2 separate regions of the Homo sapiens genome follow, and region 2 is linked to region 1. Evidence: fine-mapped expression QTL. A gene starts in region 1. The other region holds a variant in brackets. All regions are shown on one strand. Distances are between the middles of the regions. Region 1 holds the start of RUBCNL (rubicon like autophagy enhancer). Region 2 overlaps RUBCNL (rubicon like autophagy enhancer).

The links. PIP is the estimated chance that this variant, and not a neighbour inherited with it, causes the effect.
Region 2: its variant is fine-mapped to the expression of RUBCNL in whole blood (TOPMed, PIP above 0.99).

The regions. Positions count from the first base shown.
Region 1 is chr13:46,385,089-46,390,463 of GRCh38, reverse strand. It overlaps RUBCNL (rubicon like autophagy enhancer), which reads left to right and starts at 3,212. Exons shown (of 15, transcript NM_025113.5): 1 at 3,212-3,330. RefSeq lists enhancers at 1-212, 533-672, 2,436-2,545, 2,566-2,665, 2,696-2,975 and 1 more.
Region 2 is chr13:46,349,890-46,355,264 of GRCh38, reverse strand. It overlaps RUBCNL (rubicon like autophagy enhancer), which reads left to right. Exons shown (of 15, transcript NM_025113.5): 11 at 4,914-5,152. Among named protein-coding and RNA genes, the nearest start is that of RUBCNL, 35 kb to the left of the region's middle. The variant G/A (reference allele first, on the strand shown) is at 2,472.

The DNA.
Region 1 (5,375 bases):
GACAGTGGCTGTTAAGTCAGGCAAGGAGGAAGAGAAACAGCCAAGCCAAATGCAGCTTTCCTCGGTTCTTTCCTTCCCTGGTGCTTGTCTGGGCTTCTCTCCCATGCAAAATCATCAGTCTTTCTTCCTGGGACTTCTATGTGGTGAAGATGCCATTAGGCACCCTCTGGTAGCTTATAATGCAGTTCATTTCATCTCATTTCCTTCCTGTTTTGTACAGAGACTGGTTTCCCCTTTGCTGACTGTCAGCTGAGTTCAAAACTGGGGTCAAAGCTCTGCTCACAGCACAAATCACTTCTTGTGAAGCCTGGCTGGGTTTTGGCAGGCAGCTGCTAGGCTTTCGGTCTTTTATGAGGCTATCCTGGCCACAATGGAGCTTTGTGTGTGATCAATGGGTGCTGGGCATGAGCCCGGCTGGGCTAGCTGACACAGTGAGTTGTCCCTGACACTCATGACTTTCAAGCCCTGTGTCTTGGAGGGCACTGTGATCTGGAAGTTCACCTTCCCCATGAAAAAACCCAAACCAGCCTCTCCTTTTCCTGCATGGTGATCCGTCTGTAATGATCAGTGACATTCTCAGAATTAACCAATCAGGAAATTCTTGGAAAGTCCACGCCTCAGCATTTAGTGCTTGGGAAATTCTACTTCCAGATCCCAGAGGGGACAGAGCAGATTTCCAGTGAGCATTCCTAACTTGAAAAACCTGTCCTTGAATGTTTCTCCTTAGTCCTAGAGATGCTCTTTCAGAATGTGAACCTCCTGCGTCTGTGACGAGATGTAGAAGGTCTATACTCAGAGTTAGTAGGATGTCCACGTGATAGTGCCTAGGCCTGCCTTATGGCAGTTTTGAGAAAGGTGATTTCAGAGTGGCTTCAGAGGGGATGACTAAAGCCCACAATCTTGGTCCAAAATATCCTAATCTCCCTACAAAAACGATTTTCTTGCCTTGGACTATGTCCAGTCTGCCAACTAGTACAGCTGTTTCTGGTTTTTGACTCACTGATTTACCTGGCATGACATTTCCTCTTGTTTCAAGATTCTTTCTCTAAGTTCCTCCTGACTCCTCTTTCCCTTTAAGTATTCCTGAAACTGGCTCTTGCCTGGTCCCTTTATTTCATTATTCTTCCATCTTGCTGGTAGTATGGTGGAAATTGGACATAGGGTTTGGTGTCAGATACACCTGCCTTCAAAGCCTAACTGTGCTACCTATTAGCTCTGTGACCTTGGGCAAGTTATTTGAACCTAAGTCATAGATTTCCCCCTTGCGAAATGGGAACAAATGATTTGTTATTCTCAGGGATGTTCACAGACTTGCTTAAAATAATAAGAAAAAGTACCTGGCACATAGCCGATACTCAAAAAATGTTAGCACACACCCACACCTTTTTCTTTCTGATTCATTTAAGGTAAGCCCTTCCCAATCGGCCTTCAGCTGACCTGAATTCCTGGGATACTGTATTTGGAATTTTAAATATTCCAAATATCCAGAGTTCTTGCAGGTCAAAGCTGGTCTATGCTCCAAACAGGCTGCCCCCAAGGGAAGCAGGGTAATTGGCAGCTAGTATTCATCTGACTTTTGTCATATTGATTCAATATTTTATCTGAAGATGGCAGCAACTAGTACATGGTGCCACCGTTTAGCCACTCCATGCCAGAGGTACCAGGCAAGTAAAAGCCAAATTACCAGTGCCTCTGCTCCATCCTGGAAATGACAAAGGACAAAGCCAAGGAACCCAGGAAAGTGCAACGGGATTTGGTTTTATGCAGCAGGGAATCTTCTAAGAAAGCCAGGACCGGTTCACCTACGTGTCATTACCAGTGCAGGCAGCTCAGAGGTCCTTCCCCGGGAGAAGTCAGGGCACCGCGAGAGAGAGCTTAGCTTCCTTCCTTCCTCCATCCCTCCCTCCCTTCCTTCTGGGACTTAGGTTCCTTCCTTCCTTCCTTCCTTTCTACTTTTCTTTCCTTCCTTCCTTCCTTGGCTTTGGTTCCTTCCTTCCTTCTACCTTCCTTCCTTCCTTCTTTCCTTCCTTCCTGGGCTTAGGTTCCTTCCTTCCTTGGCTTAGATTCCTTCCTTCCTTCGCCCTTCCTTCCTTCCTTTCTTTGCTTTCCTTCCTTCCTTCCTTCCTTGGCTTAGGTTCCTTCCTTCCTTCCTTCCTTCTTCCCTCCCTCCCTCCCTTGGGTTCCTTCCTGCCTGCCTGCCTGCCTTCCTCCCTCCCTCCCTCCTTCCCTTCTTCTCCTTTCTGTTTTTTTTTTTTTTTTTTTTTGACAGTCTTGCTCTGTCGCCCAGGCTGGAGTGCAATGGCGCGATCTCGGCTTACTGCAACCTCCGCCTCCCGGGTTGCTCCTGCTTCAGCCTCCCTAGTAGCCGGCATAACAGGCACCCGCCACCACGCTCGGCTAATTTTTATATTTTTAGTAGAGACAGGCTTTCACCATGTTGGCCAGGCTGGTCTCGAACTCCTAACCTCAAGTGATCCATCCGACTTGGCCTCCCAAAGTAGGTGCTGGGATCACAGGCTTGAACCACCGCACCCGGCCAGAGCTTAGGTTTCTATTCGTGACAACTTTCTGTATTGGTTGGCAGGTTCTCCTAGCACCACCATGATCTCAGGACTAACCACTGCACACCCGTGATGGGATTCCAAACCTTCGCTGCAAGAGGACAAGGTGACGAGTTGCTGACAGTGAAGGCTAAACTAACGCGGACAGTGAAGTGCTACATGAGTCGGACTCAGACTCCAGGTGAAGCAGCCAGCAGAGGTCAGAGAGAGACAGCTCACGTTCCGGGTAAGTTGCAGGTCGATTTCAGGGCCGACTCATCCAGATTACTCATTCTTCATTTCAGGCAATTGTATGACTGCTAAATACTGCTGCTGGGGGCATCTGGGGTTGGGAAGTCATTTCTGCCAGGTCTTTGACCCCTGAAAGCGTCGTTGCGTCTCGCGCCGCGGGTAGGCAGGGCGGGATTTCTAGGAGGACCGGCAGAGGCGCGCATAGGTGCGTGGTGCTGGGCCCGGGCGCCGCGGCACCGGTGTAGGAGCGCGCATCTCCAGAGTTTCTTCCATCTGGGCGACGTCTCGGTGCCTGCGGCGGGAACGGCGCTTTGCTTCCCTGAGGAGCTTCTAGAGAGCTACGGTGGCCCCCGTGTGGGAGGCGGGGGGCGTGGCGGCGTCGGGGCGTCGCTGTCCCCTCCTCGGTAGCTCTCCTCCCTCCCCTTTCTGCTGTTACCGGGAGCGCGGTGGCCACGGAACGCTGCCCGGAGCCGCGCGAGGGAGGACCCGACGCGCGGCGTTTACCCAGCGCAGCGTTCCACCGCTCGGGTTTGGCTGGGTGAGGCTGGCGGGGCCGGGGGCGAGATGGGAGCGGCGCGGGGTGGAGAGGGTGGTTGGAGAAAGGGAAGGGAGGGCCGCGGGAGAGGTTGGATGGTGGAAGTGGCGCCAGAGAGGTTTGTGCCCAGCAGAGACACCCAGGTATCTTAGGGTCGCTCAGAGCAGTGTCGGGGACCCCTTGGAGACAGTAGGAAGGGGCTCCTCGCGGGGTGGCGGATTTCTATCCGGTTGACTTTGTAGAGTGAGGTTGACCCTGTGTTCGGCTTGGGCCGGGAAGGGCGCAGAAGCGGGACCTCAGGACACTTTTACGCAGGGCGATTCTCAGAGACTACAAAGCCTGCGCCCTGCGTCCTCCCAGGCGCAGTGTTCTGGGATCAGTGTCTTTTCTCTGTTTTCGTCCTCAACACAGCCAAAGTCGTGGATATGTGGTGACAGAAAAACATTTGGCTACATAACTGAGCTAGGCTGGAGTGTGAAATCGCGGCGTGTTATTTGGTCCGGGCGCCCTACATAGCAACCCCCACTCTTCTCGCCCCCAACCCCCCGCCACGCCGGACACGGTCAGGCGGGCGTTCCCCCAACCCGCCCCTTGTGAAGTCCACCTGCTGAGACTGATACAGATCCCCTGCGAACTTGATGCTGTCCGCTTGGAAAACGTGGAGAACTTTCAGAGGAGGGGTTATTTCGCCTTGAGTGAAAATTAAGACTCAAAGGAAAAGGTATACTCAAGAGCTGCCCTTACTGGGTTATTTCTGTGGAATTTGGAAGGATCTTTGAATTGAAGATGTGGTGGGAGCGCGCAGAGAACAGAGAATCCGTAAGCTTGAGTTTCTTAGACCCAGTTTCTTAAAGCCAAAGTAGCGGGGAGATCTTGGCAAGTCAAGAAACCTTCTTGAACTTCAGTTCCCTTGCCTCAGGGGGAGAATACTCCAGCCATACCCCACTGTGTGGTTTAGAAGGTTAATGGCCTGGAGGGAGGGAAGTGTTTTGAAGCCTATAAAGTATCCTGTGAAGGTATCACCACATTGCTGCCCACTGAAACACTGCCGGCCGCCGACAGAACTTTGTTTGGAGCCGAGTTAAGACAGCATCTTTATGGCAGTGCTGGGGTTTTCGTGATTACCGGTCCAGAGTGTCAGGACACCTCTGTTTCTCAAACCCCAGTTTCTGCACTGCCACATGAAACTGCTCATTACTGAGTGACAGCAGAGGACAGGAACTTTGCCTTCTTCATTAACTTCTTTAGGGCCTTTACAAAGTGGGAGATGGTAGGAACTTTGATGAAAATTGAGGGTCATAGCCTTGGAGCGGGGTGAGGGGTTAGATTTGACTGGACATAGTCTTCATGCAACCGTTTAACAACAAAAACATTGTTGGCTGAGTTCTTGTTTTTTGATACAAGGAACATTCTGTCGGAGCCAAGGTTAAACATCCAAGAGTAAACGTTTGTTGGTTTTTTTTTTTTTTTGCATGATCTTTAGAGGATAAGTAAAAAACTAAAGAAAGGCTGCATTGCTTGCTGACACATTTTTTCCCCACCCATCTGAAGGCACACAAATAATAGCACTGGCAAATTTGAATAGTTTCCCTTGTTACCAAATCTACGTTCTTATTTCTAATATGGAACGATTATTTCTAGTATGGAGAGAAATATGGAATTTCTAATATGGAAGATTTAGCATGGTGTGTCATTGTAAAAATTTAGGCAGTTCTTGGATAAGTATGTCCAGCCTTCCAGAGACTATAAGTGTAGTAATATTAGTGCCTGTTAGTCATATTGTGTATCTTCCTGATACCCAATTAGATCTCTGATTGTTTTTTCTTTTTAATTAAAAGGAGCTGAAAGATGACTCAGTTAAGAAGCTGGAAAATAAAACCAGGTCTCTGTAACTGTGCTGTCTTATTCTGAACTGAAAGTCTTTCTGCAATAATAATGATGGTGATAATAAAGCTAACCTTCATAGGACATTGTGTACCAGACTGATACACGTGCTACAATTCTGTTCGTTCTCACACCATCCTTCATGGGGGAGGTTAAGAGCATTG
Region 2 (5,375 bases), 35 kb after region 1:
TTTCCCCCTTGAGACTGGGAATCACTTGTTCTGCTCTGATGGTACCTGTATGTCTGACCTGCAAAAGGCTGGAAAGAGGAGCTTTGTGGAAAGAGTTCCCTTAGCCTTTGATAGTCGGTTTTTGAAGGAAAAAGACTATGAGGAGCTCCTACTTCAAGAGATAAAAATAGCAAGCAGGAATCGATCTGGGCTTCCTCTCCTACACTGGATGATAATGCCTGACGGGCATCACCATTGTTGCTGATTTTCTTTGAATGAGTCATTTTCCCAGCACATCTAGTGGGGAACATGTCTCTTTGGTTAACCACTGTATCCTGGCGCTTCTGTAAATATTGAATGCATGAGTCAGAAACTGTACACATATGACTATCGCTCCACCAACTTTTTGTTATTTCCCTAAGCTTGTTCAGGTATGGAGATGTGTGTCTGCACTTTTGTACAGTGGCCTTGCCCTCAGGGAGCTTGCTTATCATCTTTTAGGGAAGATACACTCATCAGCCAAGTAAGTGTATGTAACACAAAGTGATGTACGTAACAAAAGAGTCAAGAGTGCCGTGGGATTTACAGCAAGGGAACTTCATCTGAGCTTGAGAAGCTGGGAGTAAGAGGTTTCATCGGAAAGTGATTGCCCACAGAAGTAGGGGTGTTCGTCATGTGCAAAGGGCCTGTGGCAAGTAAAAGAAACCCTGTGTGGCCAGAGAGTAAGAATAGGAGGAGAAAACATGCTGCAGATGTAGGCGGGGCCCAGATTGTAGACAGCATAGAAATAATTTTGGGCTTTTCCTGTTAAATTCCTCTAGCTTCTAGGATACATTTTTTTTAACTTTTGTCTTTGAGATAATTTTAGATTTACAGAAGAGTTGCAAAAAGAGTAGAGAGAGTTCCTGTACACCCTTCACCCAGCTTCCTCTACTGCTAACATCTTACATAATCATAGTTTCAACCTGAGAAATTAGCATGGGGTACAGTCCTATTAATGAAACCCCAGGCTTTATTCAGATTTCACCAGGTTTTCAGTAACATCCTTTATCTGTTTCAGAATTTAGTTGTCATGTTTTCCTTAGTCTCCTTCAATTTCCACACACTGAACATGACATTTTACCCTTTACTAGTTCAGTATATCCCAAAAATAAGGATAAGAAACAAGTTATCACACCAAAAAAATTAAAAACAATTCTCTATATTGTCTACTTCCTAGTCCTTTTTGTTCTTAAGGTATCATTTATGGCTATTTTTTCCATCAAGGTTGCAATCAAATTTCATACATTGCATTTAGTTATTGATTCTCTTTAGTTAGCTTTATTCTAGAACTGCACTATGCAGTATGGTAGCACTAGTCCACCTGGCTATTTAAAATTAAATTAATTGAAATTAAGAATTCAGTTCCTCAGTCACACTAACTACATTTCAAGTACTCAATAGCCACATGTAACTCATGGCTACTGTATTGGACAGCACAGATATAGAACACTTTTATCCCCATGGAAAGTTATACCGGACATCTCTGTTCTAGAATATTTCTCTTCCACCCAACCCCCTGATGCTGACTTTTCATAAAATGAGGACAATTGTGTTTTGGAGCAGGATTTCTCAACTTCAGTACCATGGACTTTGTCGTGGGGGGTCCTGTGCACTGTAGGATGTTTAGCAGCATCAGTAGGTGCCAGAAGCAGCTCCCAGTGGCCACTGAAAATGGCGCCAGACATTTGCAAATGCCCCTTGGGAGGCAAAATCACCCTTGGCCAAGAACCACTGGTTTAGGTCACTTTGTATTCTGTTTTAGTTAAAGGACTTAGGAAATTAAAAAAGATGGACATTAGTGTATTCTGTATTGATAGTATAACAGCATGTATTCAATGAAGTTTGATGAATGAGTGAATGGATATTGAGTGTGTGTTGAGGAGTAGATGAAACTGTTGCTACCAGAAGCTCACAGGTGCCTAACCCTGAATTTCCCCCAGGAGCAGTGGTTCAGTATTGACTAATTCAGTGTTCATGGCGACTCTAGAGAACATAACTATCATGAATAACAAAAAACAACTCTTTATTTGTTTGCTTTTAAACATCAACTCAGAGTGTGACCTGGGTCTGAGGGACAATTTGGGCAAGTGCAAAGGCGTTAGCTCCCTCTCCCTTTCCCACCATCGAATGCAGCGGAGGAGGAGTGGGACATGATGGCTGTGGGCTGGAGCTTTCGCAGTCCAGGCTTGGGTTGGAATCCTGCCTGCCTACATACTGTTCGTGTGGCCCTGCGTGTTGCCTAACTTCAGTGTCTTGTGCTTTCATCAGTGAAATAGGGGAAATAACTGTCCCTCTCTCACAGACTTTCGAGCACAGAATGACATAGTAAATGTAAAACATTTAACTGATCTGTGGCACAGAGTAAGTACTCAGCAAGATTCATTTCTGTGGTCGCTCCCAGCCAGGCCTTGTTTATTTTTTATTTTTATTTTTTTGAGATGGAGTTTCAC[G/A]CTTGTTGCCCACCCAGGCTGGAGCGCAATGGCGCAATCTTGGCTCACTGCAACCTCTGCCTCCCGGGTTCAAGCAATTCTCCTGCCTCAGCCTCCCAAGTAGCAGGGATTACAAGCATGCACCGCCACTCCAATCTAATTTTGTATTTTTAGTGGAGATGGGGTTTCTCCGTGTTGGTCAGGCTGGTCTCAAATTCCCAACCTCAGGTGATCTGCCCACCTCGGCCTCCCAAAGTGCTGCGATTACAGGTGTGAGCCACCGCACCCGGCCAGGCCTTGTTTATTTTTAAAGCCATTATTTGGAAATGATCTTCAGAATCTACAGTGTACGGGTTCTACAGCAGCTGCTTTCCCATCCATGATTTCATTAATCCTCCCAGTATATGGCAACTAAGATTTCTGTTATGCTGTATGGTATTTTAGTTACAAAGACGTACATGACTCAAACTATGAATGATAAATATCAAACTTGGTTCATGTCAGAACCTAGTGTTGAGGGAGGGGCACATAGAAGACTTCAACTGAATTGTTTTCTTTCTGAAGCTGGGTGGTGAGTGCACAGGTATTTGTTGCATTAGTTTTTATACCTTTTGTTTGTTAATGTATTTTATTAGACACATTTCCAAAAGTGGTCAATGAGTGTTTATTTTAGTAGGTTAGAAAGTGCAGTGGGCGTGGTGGCTCACGCCTGTAATCCCAACACTTTGGGAGGCCAACATGAGTGGATCACTTGAGGTCAGGAGTTTGAGACCAGCCTGGCCAACATAGTGAAACCCCATCTCTACTAAAAATACAAAAATTAGCCGGGCATGGTGGCACGCCCTGTAGTCCCAACTACCGGGGAGGCTGAGGCAGGAGAATCACTTGAACCCAGGAGGGAGAGGTTGCACTGAACTGAGATCATGCCACTGCACTCCAGCCTGGGCAACAGAGCGAGACTCCTTCTCAAAAAAAAAAAAAAAAAAGTGTAAAGAGCAAAAATTCCTTCTTTCTCCTACCCTCCAGAAATAGTCACTGTTGGCTTTTTGGTGGGGATTTAGACAGTGAATATATGTTTATGTGTATGTTTATATATATGTTCTTAAATAAAATTGAGATCACATTATACCTATTTGTAACTGGATGTCCACTTCCTATGCTCTTCCGTGTACTTTATGGGCTGTACAGCATTTCATGTTGAGTGCACCATACTTATTTAACCAATTGCCTTTTGATGGACATTTTGGCTGCCACCCCCATTATAAATGTGCTGTAATGAACACCTTTTTATATCACTATGTGTGCCTGTTAGCACTTCTGTCTGATGGAGTAACAGAAGCAGGATTACTGTTACACATGTGAGAATTGAAGTCTATCACAAAAATGTCTTCCTACAAATTAGTTCTATCAGTGCTAGACGTAAGTGCCCTCCTCTAGATACTGCACCAGTTCTGGGTCTTCTAAATTTATGACAGGCTGAGTCAAAACAGAGTATCTCACTTTTCTTTTCTTTCATTTCATTTCAATTTAATTTTATTATTTGTCATCAATTTGTGACAGGGTCTCGCTCTGTTGCCCAGGCTGGATGGAATGCAGTGACATGATGATGGCTCACTGTAGCCTCCACCTTCAAGCAATCCTCCTGCCTTAGCCTCCCAAGTAGCTAGGACCACAGGCACACACCACATTGCCTGGCTAATTTTTTTTTTTTTTCTGTGGAGATGGGGTCCCACTATGTTGCCCACGCTGGTCTTGAACTCCTGGGCTCAAGCAGTCCTCCCATCTTGGCCTCCCAAAGTGCTAGGATTACTGGTACAAGCCACTGTGCTCAGCCTCACTTTTAAAATATGCATTTTTTTGTTTCTGAGATTGTTTTTCTCTGTTAGTTATCTGCATTTCTTCTTTCCGTGAATTACCTATTCCCATCCTTTGTGCATTTTTGTATTTTTTTCTCATTGATTTATCAAGGTCTTTATGATGCTGCTTCCTAACATTGTATATATACTGCTTCACAATTTATAAAGCACTTTTCCTATGTGTAATAACACTCGATCCAGTTCTGAGTTGCATTTTGTGGTCTCAGAATAGTTAGCCTAACCTGCCTTCAGTCTTCCTGCTAGTGAGAGGAGTCTGGACTCCCACCCAGATTTCCAGATCCTAAAATGAATGTTCCTTTTGCTACACTGCAGTTTGCAATTTCCATCTTCCAAATCCAGGAGTATTTTGGGAAGGTTTTGTTTTTCTGACGTCTGTTCCACAAGAGCAGAGCTCATGAATGGCCATGATTTAATTCCCCAAGTCTCTGCTGGAGCCTTCCCAGCTGTCATGAGGTTGAGTATGGCTTTATCATCATGAAACAAGTCATCAGAGTCTTTGAATCTTGCGTAGGAATTGGAAGTCGGGGTATACCAGGATAGGTTTTCAGCACCAGGTGTGGCACTCACCCTCCGGTATGCTTGGCAGAGTTTGTGAAGCGGCTCCGGTACTGCGAATACCTAGGGAAGTATTTCTGTGACTGCTGCCACTCATATGCAGAGTCGTGCATCCCTGCCCGAATCCTGATGATGTGGGACTTCAAGAAGTACTACGTCAGCAATTTCTCCAAACAGCTGCTCGACAGCATATGGCACCAGCCCATTTTCAATTTGCTGAGCATCGGCCAAAGCCTGTATGCGAAAGCCAAGGAGCTGGACAGAGTGAAGGTGAGCCGCAGCCCCAACCCCATCCCTCTCATTGGAAGTGTCCTGTGGCAGGAAATGCACATCACACTAGCTTGGGGAACCCACAGATACATCCTCTAAGAGGCAAATGGATCATAAAGCGAGTGAAGCGGCTGGGCGCAGGGGCTCACACCTGTAATCCCAGCACTTTGAGAGGCCAAGGTGGGCGGATTGCCTGAGGTCAGGAGTTCGAGACTAGCCTGGC